Regions from separate parts of the Homo sapiens genome. Here region 1 is linked to region 2. The links come from fine-mapping of genetic effects on gene expression. A gene starts in region 2. The other region holds a variant in brackets. All regions are shown on one strand. Distances are between the middles of the regions. Region 1 overlaps CLRN1-AS1 (CLRN1 antisense RNA 1). Region 2 holds the start of MED12L (mediator complex subunit 12L).

The links. PIP is the estimated chance that this variant, and not a neighbour inherited with it, causes the effect.
Region 1: its variant is the best candidate, but not a certain one, in a credible set for the expression of MED12L in tibial nerve (GTEx, PIP 0.76).

The regions. Positions count from the first base shown.
Region 1 is chr3:150,998,733-151,003,119 of GRCh38, reverse strand. The region is part of intron 1 of CLRN1-AS1 (CLRN1 antisense RNA 1); the gene reads right to left. Among named protein-coding and RNA genes, the nearest start is that of CLRN1, 28 kb to the right of the region's middle. The variant G/TG (reference allele first, on the strand shown) is at 1,980.
Region 2 is chr3:151,083,064-151,087,450 of GRCh38, reverse strand. It overlaps MED12L (mediator complex subunit 12L), which reads right to left and starts at 1,787. Exons shown (of 45, transcript NM_001393769.1): 1 at 1,515-1,787; 2 at 426-653. The coding sequence starts at 524. RefSeq lists silencers at 1,035-1,329, 1,766-2,135.

The DNA.
Region 1 (4,387 bases), 84 kb after region 2:
CATTAATAAGATATTGATTGATTACAACAAATTTACCCTGCATTACTGCCTCAGAGCTCTTATCACTAATTAAAATTATAAGGTATTATATGTATTTAATTACCTACTTGTTTATTTTCTGTCTCTCCTACTAGAATGTAAGCTCATGAGGGCAAGGACTTTGTCGTATTCACAGCTGTATCTTTAGCACTTCAAACAAGGCCTCCTCCATTATGGGCACTCAACAAATACTGATTGAAGGGATGAAAGAACAGATTAACAGTTCAGCCTAGGATAGAGTCAGATGCGAGATATTTTTTGGAATACTCGGCAAATACAAGTCCTTCATGGGTGGCCATGACTATCAGATCAAACAAGGCCTGAGCCATGCTCTTCACAGGCAGTATTGTTACAGAGATTCCTGGTCTGGTGCACTTCTAAAGTCAGAGTCTCTGGAGATCTCACCTGCAGCTGTATGAAGAAGAAAACATAAGAATGTTCTCTATCTGCACATTCCTTTCCCTTTCTCTTATTAAAAATAAACATTGTGCTGGTGAGTTTTTCCTGTGTTCCTCCCCACTCTCAGAAACAGTTCTAATGTCCAGATTAAGTATTTCCTAAGGGGAGAAAAAAACTGTATTCCTTTTGAAGAATGACCATCTGTGTAGCCTTGGAGAAACCCTAGAGGACTCATGAATGGAAAAGGATCTCCGGGCCAAAAATCAGTTCTCACTTAATGTCTTCTCTGGCTATTGCTCTGGCAGTTGAATGGAGTCAGATTTTCATCTTATGTAATATGACAGGACAATTCAACTTCCATTGAGTGTAGCACATATCCCTAGAGCTACATAGGACAGAACTAAGTGGTTACATAAACACATATGGAAACGTAAAAATTTTAAAGACAGGCTAAGCACTCCAAGGGACATGTTACCCCCAGGGGAAATTAACAGTTAGATCAACAAGCAGAGCTCTCCTCTAAGTCACACATGGATTTCATACAGTTTATGGCCATACTACTGGAGGGGAAAATGACTTTATGTACATATTTTTCATGACTTACTCTGAGAAGGAGAAAATAGGCAATACCTTTTATCTCAGGATATCAGGAGACAGAAAAGGGATGACCATGGGGCATACTAGTTGGGGTCAGAACAAACAATGTATTAATCAGGGATTCTGCAGGAAACAGCATACTCAAAACAACTTATTGAAAGGGATTTAATTAAGCCACTAGTTACAAAGGTATGGACAGGTTAAGGGAACAAACAAAGGATGGTGAGGCCTCCAGGGACTGAGGAAGCCTGTTCTACTTTTAGGCCTGAAGAGAGCAAAGGGTGGAGGTTGTGTTATCAAAACCAGCACAATCTATAGTCCTTGGAGAGAATCCACCCAATAGGAGCTACAGCTATGTGCAGACAGAGCCCGAACCATGAGGAAATTGGAGGGAGAGCATATGGAGATGGGGGGAACGAATATAAATAGCCCAAACTCTCTTTCTTCCCACCTACCAGTTTCTTGCTGATGCTTCTCACTGGCCACAGGAAAGCACCAGGGGCAAGGAAGTCTGTGTAAGAAAGAGCACAGGGGTCAGCTTCCTGAGGCACAGCAGGTTACAGAAGGGCCAAGAATGGGCAGACAAGGAGGAGAGGGCATGTGGACAAAAATCAACACAAATAACGCCTACTAGCCCTACTACTACTCGACTGCAGACAAGGGTTGACATTTGTTGGATGTGCTAGGCACAGTCCTATGCCGTTTACATGAATCATCCCACTTAATACTTGTGATGCGATTTACTGTGAAATCAACTAAGCTGAAGCTTCAGGCCCCTCTATTGCACAGATACCTTTCAGGGACCTCAGAGGGACCCTAGCCATAAATTTACATAGTGCTTATGGAAATTTTGCAAATGTAAGATACGTTTACCTTAATTAATTAAGGTTACTGTTTCTTTCCAATCAGACTTCACTGCTGTTACGTTTCCCTTCCCGTCAGGT[G/TG]GCACTGAGTGTGGGAATTTTTTGGATATGGCTAATGGGATGTTGAGGTGGGATTACACTAAAGTTGGGTTTAGTAAGAGATTTTTAGGTGGTTTTCAATCACGCCAGTGTAGAAACGGCGTCCAGGAATACTCCTTTTATCTACTATGCTGATTCATCATGGAACCAAGCTTCACGGCCAGGGGTTGGGGTACGAAAGTGAGATACAGCACGTAATTCTGGACATACGGCTATGGAGGAGACACGAGATTTGAAAAACTCGAGCCGGAAGCTAGCCTCTGTGGAATTCTTCTAATCATAGCATGTGTAAAATTGTAAGGGGAGGGTGGAATTCTCATTGATAACTAGACAATATGGAAGTTTTTTTCTTGGCAATAATATACTGTAAAATTCAGTGCATACAATTGTAACAGCATTGTACTTTTTTCTCCTTTTTGATGAGAATTGTGTGAAGTAGAAGAGTAGAATTTCTGTGCCTGGAGGGCATATACCAATACCAGCACCACTTATATGCAAATCATCACAAATTCTACATTTTATCATGTATTTTGCAGGCCACCAAAGTAAAATTGAGAAAAAGATATATGTAAGTATATTCTAAAGTAATGTAATAATAGCAAATATTTACTAGCATGTACTATATCTGGCATTGTGCTAAGCATTTTATAGGTATTAACTCATTTAATCTTCACAGCAACCCTTTGAAGTAGGTGCTATTGTTATCCTCCTCCTGTCTTTTCTTTTCTTTTTTTTTGTTTTTTGTTTAGTTTAGTTTTGTTTTTTTTGAGACTGAGTCTCGCTCTATTGCCCAGGACGGAGTGAAGTGGCACGATATTGGCTCACTGCAATCTCCGCCCCCCAGGTTCAAGCAATTCTCCTGCTGCAGCTTCCCAAGTAGTTGGGATTACAGGTGTCCGCCACCACGCCCAGCTAATTTTTGTATTTTTAGTAGAGACGGGGTTTCACCATGTTGGCCAGGCTGGTCTCGAACTCCTGACCTCAAATGATCCACTCACCTTGGCCTCCCAAAGTGCTGGGATTACAGGCGTTAGCTGCCGCACCCGGCCCTGTCTTTTACTTTCAAAAGCCTAAACTCATTGTTGGGATCAGAATTTGAGGTGAGAGAGGAGTCCTTCTGGGGAAGTATGATCAAAGAAGACTTTTCTCAAGATGAAGTCCCAGGGACTGGAACAGACCTCAGTGGCTGGGCCCAAGGGTGGCGCCATGGCATGCCAAGGATGACCAAGGATAAAACATAGTGTGGAAATAGCTGACTTCAGACTTCAAGGAAACACTTGGGCTGAGACAGTGGGGCATTTCAGCAATTAGTAGACAATTTAGCAGGGTGGGGGCCTGAAATTATCATTAAATTGATTTATGAAAATGAAAGAAATTAATTTTGTTTGCAGAGTTTGAGGAATAAGACTTATATTTGCTATTTAAGTTTAACTCTGTGAAAATAGAAACAAAGGAATTATACACCTTGGCTTCATCTCCTTCAAAATCTGAAATACCTAATAAAAAGAATATTGGTTTGGGGACCATAAATAACTGGCTTTGAATTCCAGCTCTGCTATTTATTAGCTAAGTGACCTTGAAAAATGTGTAAAATTTCTGTGAGCCTCAGTTTCATCAGCTGTAAAAATGGGAATAATAGTGTTATTGTAGGAATTATCTTAGTGCATTTAAAACTCCTGACCTGCTACTTCATAACAGGCATTTAAATATTGGTTTTCATTATAAATGAAAATAAAATCTAAACGCATTTTCTGGAAGAAAGTGTTGCAGAAGCACAAATTACATACTACCCTTTCAATGCCACCTAGCTAATATGCTTTATGAAGAAACCCAGCTGTAATTTAAAAAAAATTTTGAACTCACCCAACGTTTTTGCCCTGCTTCTAAAACTAGAAACCAAGGAGGTAACGTGTACCCATCTGTGCACCCACACCCTTTTGAATATGAAGTTTAAATAAAAGTCTTCTCAGTCTGTTTAAACAGTACTCCTCGGCTTTGAGGCAGATAGATCTGCTTCAATTAGAACCTAATCCTGCTCTCCTCATACTTGCAATGCTCTCACTAAAACTCGTGAGAGAGAAACAATAGTCCATTTAATTAAATGATGCTGAAGCCTGAATTCAATCCATCTGTGTATTGAGAAGTAAGATTTTGAATATTGATTATTCTTCCCTGCATGAAAACTTTGCTATCTGCTCTGCATTCTCTCCCCAATAAGGAATGATGTTTTCCCTACTATAGCGGCTTTTATTTTAAAACAAACTAAATAGGCCTAGTTCTAGAACAAAAAACAATGTTATTGTTTCTCTTTTTCCCTTCAGCTCTCCATTTCGGGCTTCTGGAACTTTTCTCTCTGTCCTTACCCCACCCATCTAGTCTCAGGTGGCCAC
Region 2 (4,387 bases):
GCCAGCAAAAGCAAAACGCAAGACCTCAGTGTAGGATGCACTGCATTCCAACATTTTTCAAAAAGTTTACGACGATTTACCGAAGCGGCAAGAAGAAAAATAAAGCAGGCAGAAACGGGTGAGAGCGAGCAAGGTTTCGGCAGGGAAGAAGCCCGAGAAGCGCCCGGCGGCGCCGTGCAAGGCCCGGCAACGGGAAAGCGACCGGCACATGGAAAGCGAGCGCCCCAGTGGAGCGCGGGGACTGACAGCCGCTCGGTCTCCGCCGCCGGGGGGTCGCCCAGCACCCCCAGCCTGGCCCCCGCCTCTAATCCCCCTCCCCGACCTCTTCCACCGCAGCGCCGGCGATGCCCGCTGGGCCAACTTGGCCCCGGGTCAGTGCTGCAGAGCGCGGCCCCGGTTGCCGGGGAGGCCGCCGGCGCCCTTACCTCCTTCTGCTTGGGGTCCTGTGGGTAGACGTCGGGCGGCCCGAGCCGGGGGCGCTTCAGCGGTCTCTGCTCATAGCTGAGAAGCCCGAAGGCGGCCATGATCTCTCATGTTAACCGGCGAAATGAATGAGAGTTGGAGCTGGAGCAGCCGCCTCTGAGCACCAGGGAGCAGCACTTTGCAGACAGACTCCCTCTCTCCCCCTCCTCGCTCGCTCGCTCGCTGTGGCGCTGCAGGCAGGAGGAATAAAGCAGGTTGGATGCTGCCGCTGCCCGGCAGCAGACACGCACTGATGGGGACAGCCTTCGGCGGGTACTCGGCTGCGCTCGAGCCCCGGGACGCACCGCTCCGGTGGCGGCGGCGGAGGGACTAGAGGTCGGCCAGGGTCCTCCGCGGCGCCTGCCTCCTCTGCTCCCCCCTACCTTGTCTCCAGGGGGAGGAGCAGCTGATGGGAACGTGTGACTTTTTTCACCAATGGACCCAAACCCACCCCAGCTGGGCGCAGGATGGGGGTGGGGGTGGGGCACTGGAAAAAAAAAAAAAAAAACTTTTCTTGGCGCCTAGGCTGGTGGCTGAAGTGCTCGCCCAAGGCGAGGGTGGCCCTCCCCTCCCGGGAAGAAGCTGTGGAGCGGACCGCCCCCGCCTCTCTTCCCCGGCAGGGACCCTTCCCCCGCCGCCACGCGCCCCGCAGACCCCGCCACCTGGACACGGACCGGGCCAGTGCAGGCAGAGGCAGGTCTGGAGGGGGCGCGAGACGCAGGGATGCGGCCGGTGGGAAGCGGCCGGTGCCTCCTAGACGCCCGCCAGGTTCCAGTGGCGCATCCGCAGCTACGGTCCCCTCGGCGGCTCCGGGCAGGCGCCGAGGCGCGCTGCTGGCGGTCGCGGCGGCTGGAGGGGGCCGTGCTCACGGTGGCGTGGGGCCGACTTAACCCTTTACAGTCCCTCCAGGGGCTGGGGAAGGGGGTGAGGAGCGATGGCTGTGAGCGCCGACGGGGGCAGCCAGCCCGCAGGCGTCTCGGGCTCCTCCAGCCCGCCGCCTCCCCACGGCCCCAGCTCCTCTTCCCTTCCGCCCCCAACCCCCAACACTTTACCTGTTGGTCCGCGGCTAGCGGGCTGGGGCTGGCGGCGGCGGGGTCACTCCGGCCGCCGCAGCCTCCATCATTCGGGTTGGGATGGGGGACTTGGATTTGATTTTATTTGTGCGGTATCTGCCTCGCCCGGACGAGCTCCGGGAACGCCGCGAAGTTTGCCACTGTCTGGGGGCGGCGAGCGACGCCGGCTCGCCGCCGGCGTTCTCGCCCCCACGGCCCGGGAGCGCGAGCTTCCGAGTTGGCGGACGGCGGCGCGGCGTCCGCACTGAGCATGCCCAGCTCGGCGGCCGGACCGCGGAGGAGTTGGCTGAGAGCGCGGTGAGCGCGCTCCAATCCGCCTCTCCGGGTTTTCGCAGCCGCAGAGCGCGCAGCCCGCGGGCCCCGGCGCCGAGGCTGGCCCTGGGGTGAACCTGGGCGAGGGAGGGAGCGCCCTCTGGAGCCCTGCTCCAAGCCCCCCGCTGCACCCTCCGCCTCGACCTCCCCAGAGGTCGCGGTCCCCGTGGCCTGGGCCGAAAACCTCACCTGCGCCGGGAGCGTGGAAGGGGCGGGGGGGGTGATCCTCCAGGGCAGACCTTGGTCATCCAACCCGCCCTCGCTCCTCGCTTCGGGGCGCGGGCACCAAGATGCTGGGCCACCTGGCGCGAGCTCTGCGAGACCGGAGCCGCGGAGGCGGGCTCGGCCTGTCCTGAGGGACCCCGCGGGAGGCGTGCCCGGGAGAATGCGCCCGCACTTGGCCAAGAATGATGGCTGCCATTTATGGAGCCTTCGCTACGTGCCAGGATCTTGATAGTCAGAATCTCTGGTCCTTACAACCTTCCACGGTCTTACTGTACCCTTTTTATGGATGGAGAAATTGAGCCAGCTCAGAGAGGACCACTCACTTGCCGAAAGCCACGAAACGAGTCGGAATTTGAACCCACGACTGATTCTAAGTTTCTGACCTGTTTTCCCTGACTTGGACTTGGAGGGACTGGGTTCCTAACCTGTCCTTGCCTGATGGACTCACGTTCTCCACGGCTTGAGGCATTCTCGGCCTTCCCTCTCTGTAAGGTGGTAAAGGCAGATTCTAACCGGAAGCCTTTGATACATAGTAGGTGCTCTGGAAATGCTGGTTGAATCTGAACATCAACTTTGATGTTCGTTGACATTTAAGCAAAGGGGGAAGAAGGAGATAAATAAAGTGAAGGTAATGTGGTAGAGGCTAGTTCCTCACTCCTGATCCTGACCTGTGAGCACCTCCAAACCCAGTTTGAGGCTGAGTCAGGTGTTTAGCTTTTGGCTTCCTTAATCTGAACAATTACTTCTAGAGAGCATTTACCTAACTTCACTGGAGGGCATTTCCTGACCACCTTCCCCATCTTGCCCCAGGGTCTTCTCTTCCACTAATATCCTGGGATTAATTTCATGGCTGGACTTGCCCTTGTGATACAGGCATCTATCAAATGTAGCTCCCTTGTTTGAAAGAAAGGACAGTTTTTTGTTGTTGTTGTTTTCTTTGTTTGGTTGGTTGGTTGTTTTTTGAGACAGAGCCTCGCTCTGTCGCCCAGGCTGGAGTGCAGTGGCGAGATCTCGGCTCACTGCAAGCTCCGCCTCCTGGGTTCACGCCATTCTCCTGCCTCAGCCTCCCGCGTAGCTGGGGCTACAGGCGCCCGCCACCACGCCCGGCTAATTTTTTTTGTATTTCTTTTTTTTAGTAGAGACGGGGTTTCACAGTGTTAGCTAGGATGGTCTCGATCTCCTGACCTCGCAATCCGCCCACCTCGGCCTCCCAAAGTGCTGGGATTACAGGCGTGAGCCACCGCGCCCGGCCGAAAGGGTTTTTTTTATTATCTAACTTTATTAGGGAAATTATTAAACATACAAAAAGCTGAAGAAATCATATAAGGAGCCCTCAAATATTCATCTCTCAGCTATAAAAATTAAAGTTACTATTTTTGTTTCATCTTTCTCCCCCATTCCCAACTCACTGACATACACTAGTAAGGACAGTTTTACTCATTGTTGCAACTCAGAAACACTGTATGGGACCTGACACATGGTGAGCATTCAAAAATGTTGGCTTATGGAATGGATGATAGGTAGGCGATGTGTGGATGGACTGATGATTGCATCATTAGTGGTACTTTGGGAATAACAGCCTGCGCTGCTACTGAATCAAACACCCCTAGTTTGGGGGAGAAATGTAATCTCAGTTCTTCCCTTGGGATGCCTAAGCAAGCGCCTCCAACTGAAACACTTTGAAGCACTTAAAATCTTATCTGCCCATAAGAATTTTATCTTAAAATCAAAATGTGTCAGTAGTGTGCCCCTGGTGTTTGGGAAGAAGGGAAAATAATAGCCCTCTCCCTGTTGTTGTCCCTTCTTAACTCCCTCTCCTGAAACAGTCTGGCATGAATTCCTTGACCCTCTCAACACAAAATAAATAAATATTGAAAACTTTAATATGCTTAGAAGCTTCCCCTAGGAATCATTATTTTACTGCATGGATTTCCCATGGGCATTTGGCTCCTTACCCTGGGAAATCTTTGTAATCTACCCCCTACCTAGCAATTCAGCTTTTTCTCCTTAACCTCTTGCCCTAGTTAGCTTCCTTTCCTAATATGGAATTCCCAGGCTCTTCATCTTCAAATACTCACCTCTACAGTCCTCAGAGTACGGATTCCTGTACAAAGCCCCTTCAAATTCCCCTGGCAAAAGGTGATCTTTTGGCTTTTTAGTGCCCTTAGCACTTAATTTTTATTATCTTAACACTTATTTATTGGCATGCATTTGAATGTGTCACACAGAATAGTCTTGTTGCCTCATTCTCACCTTTTCCTCCTGGTCCCCTTCTTCCATTCCAGGTCTTTAAGCAGACTAAGATCAGCTCATCA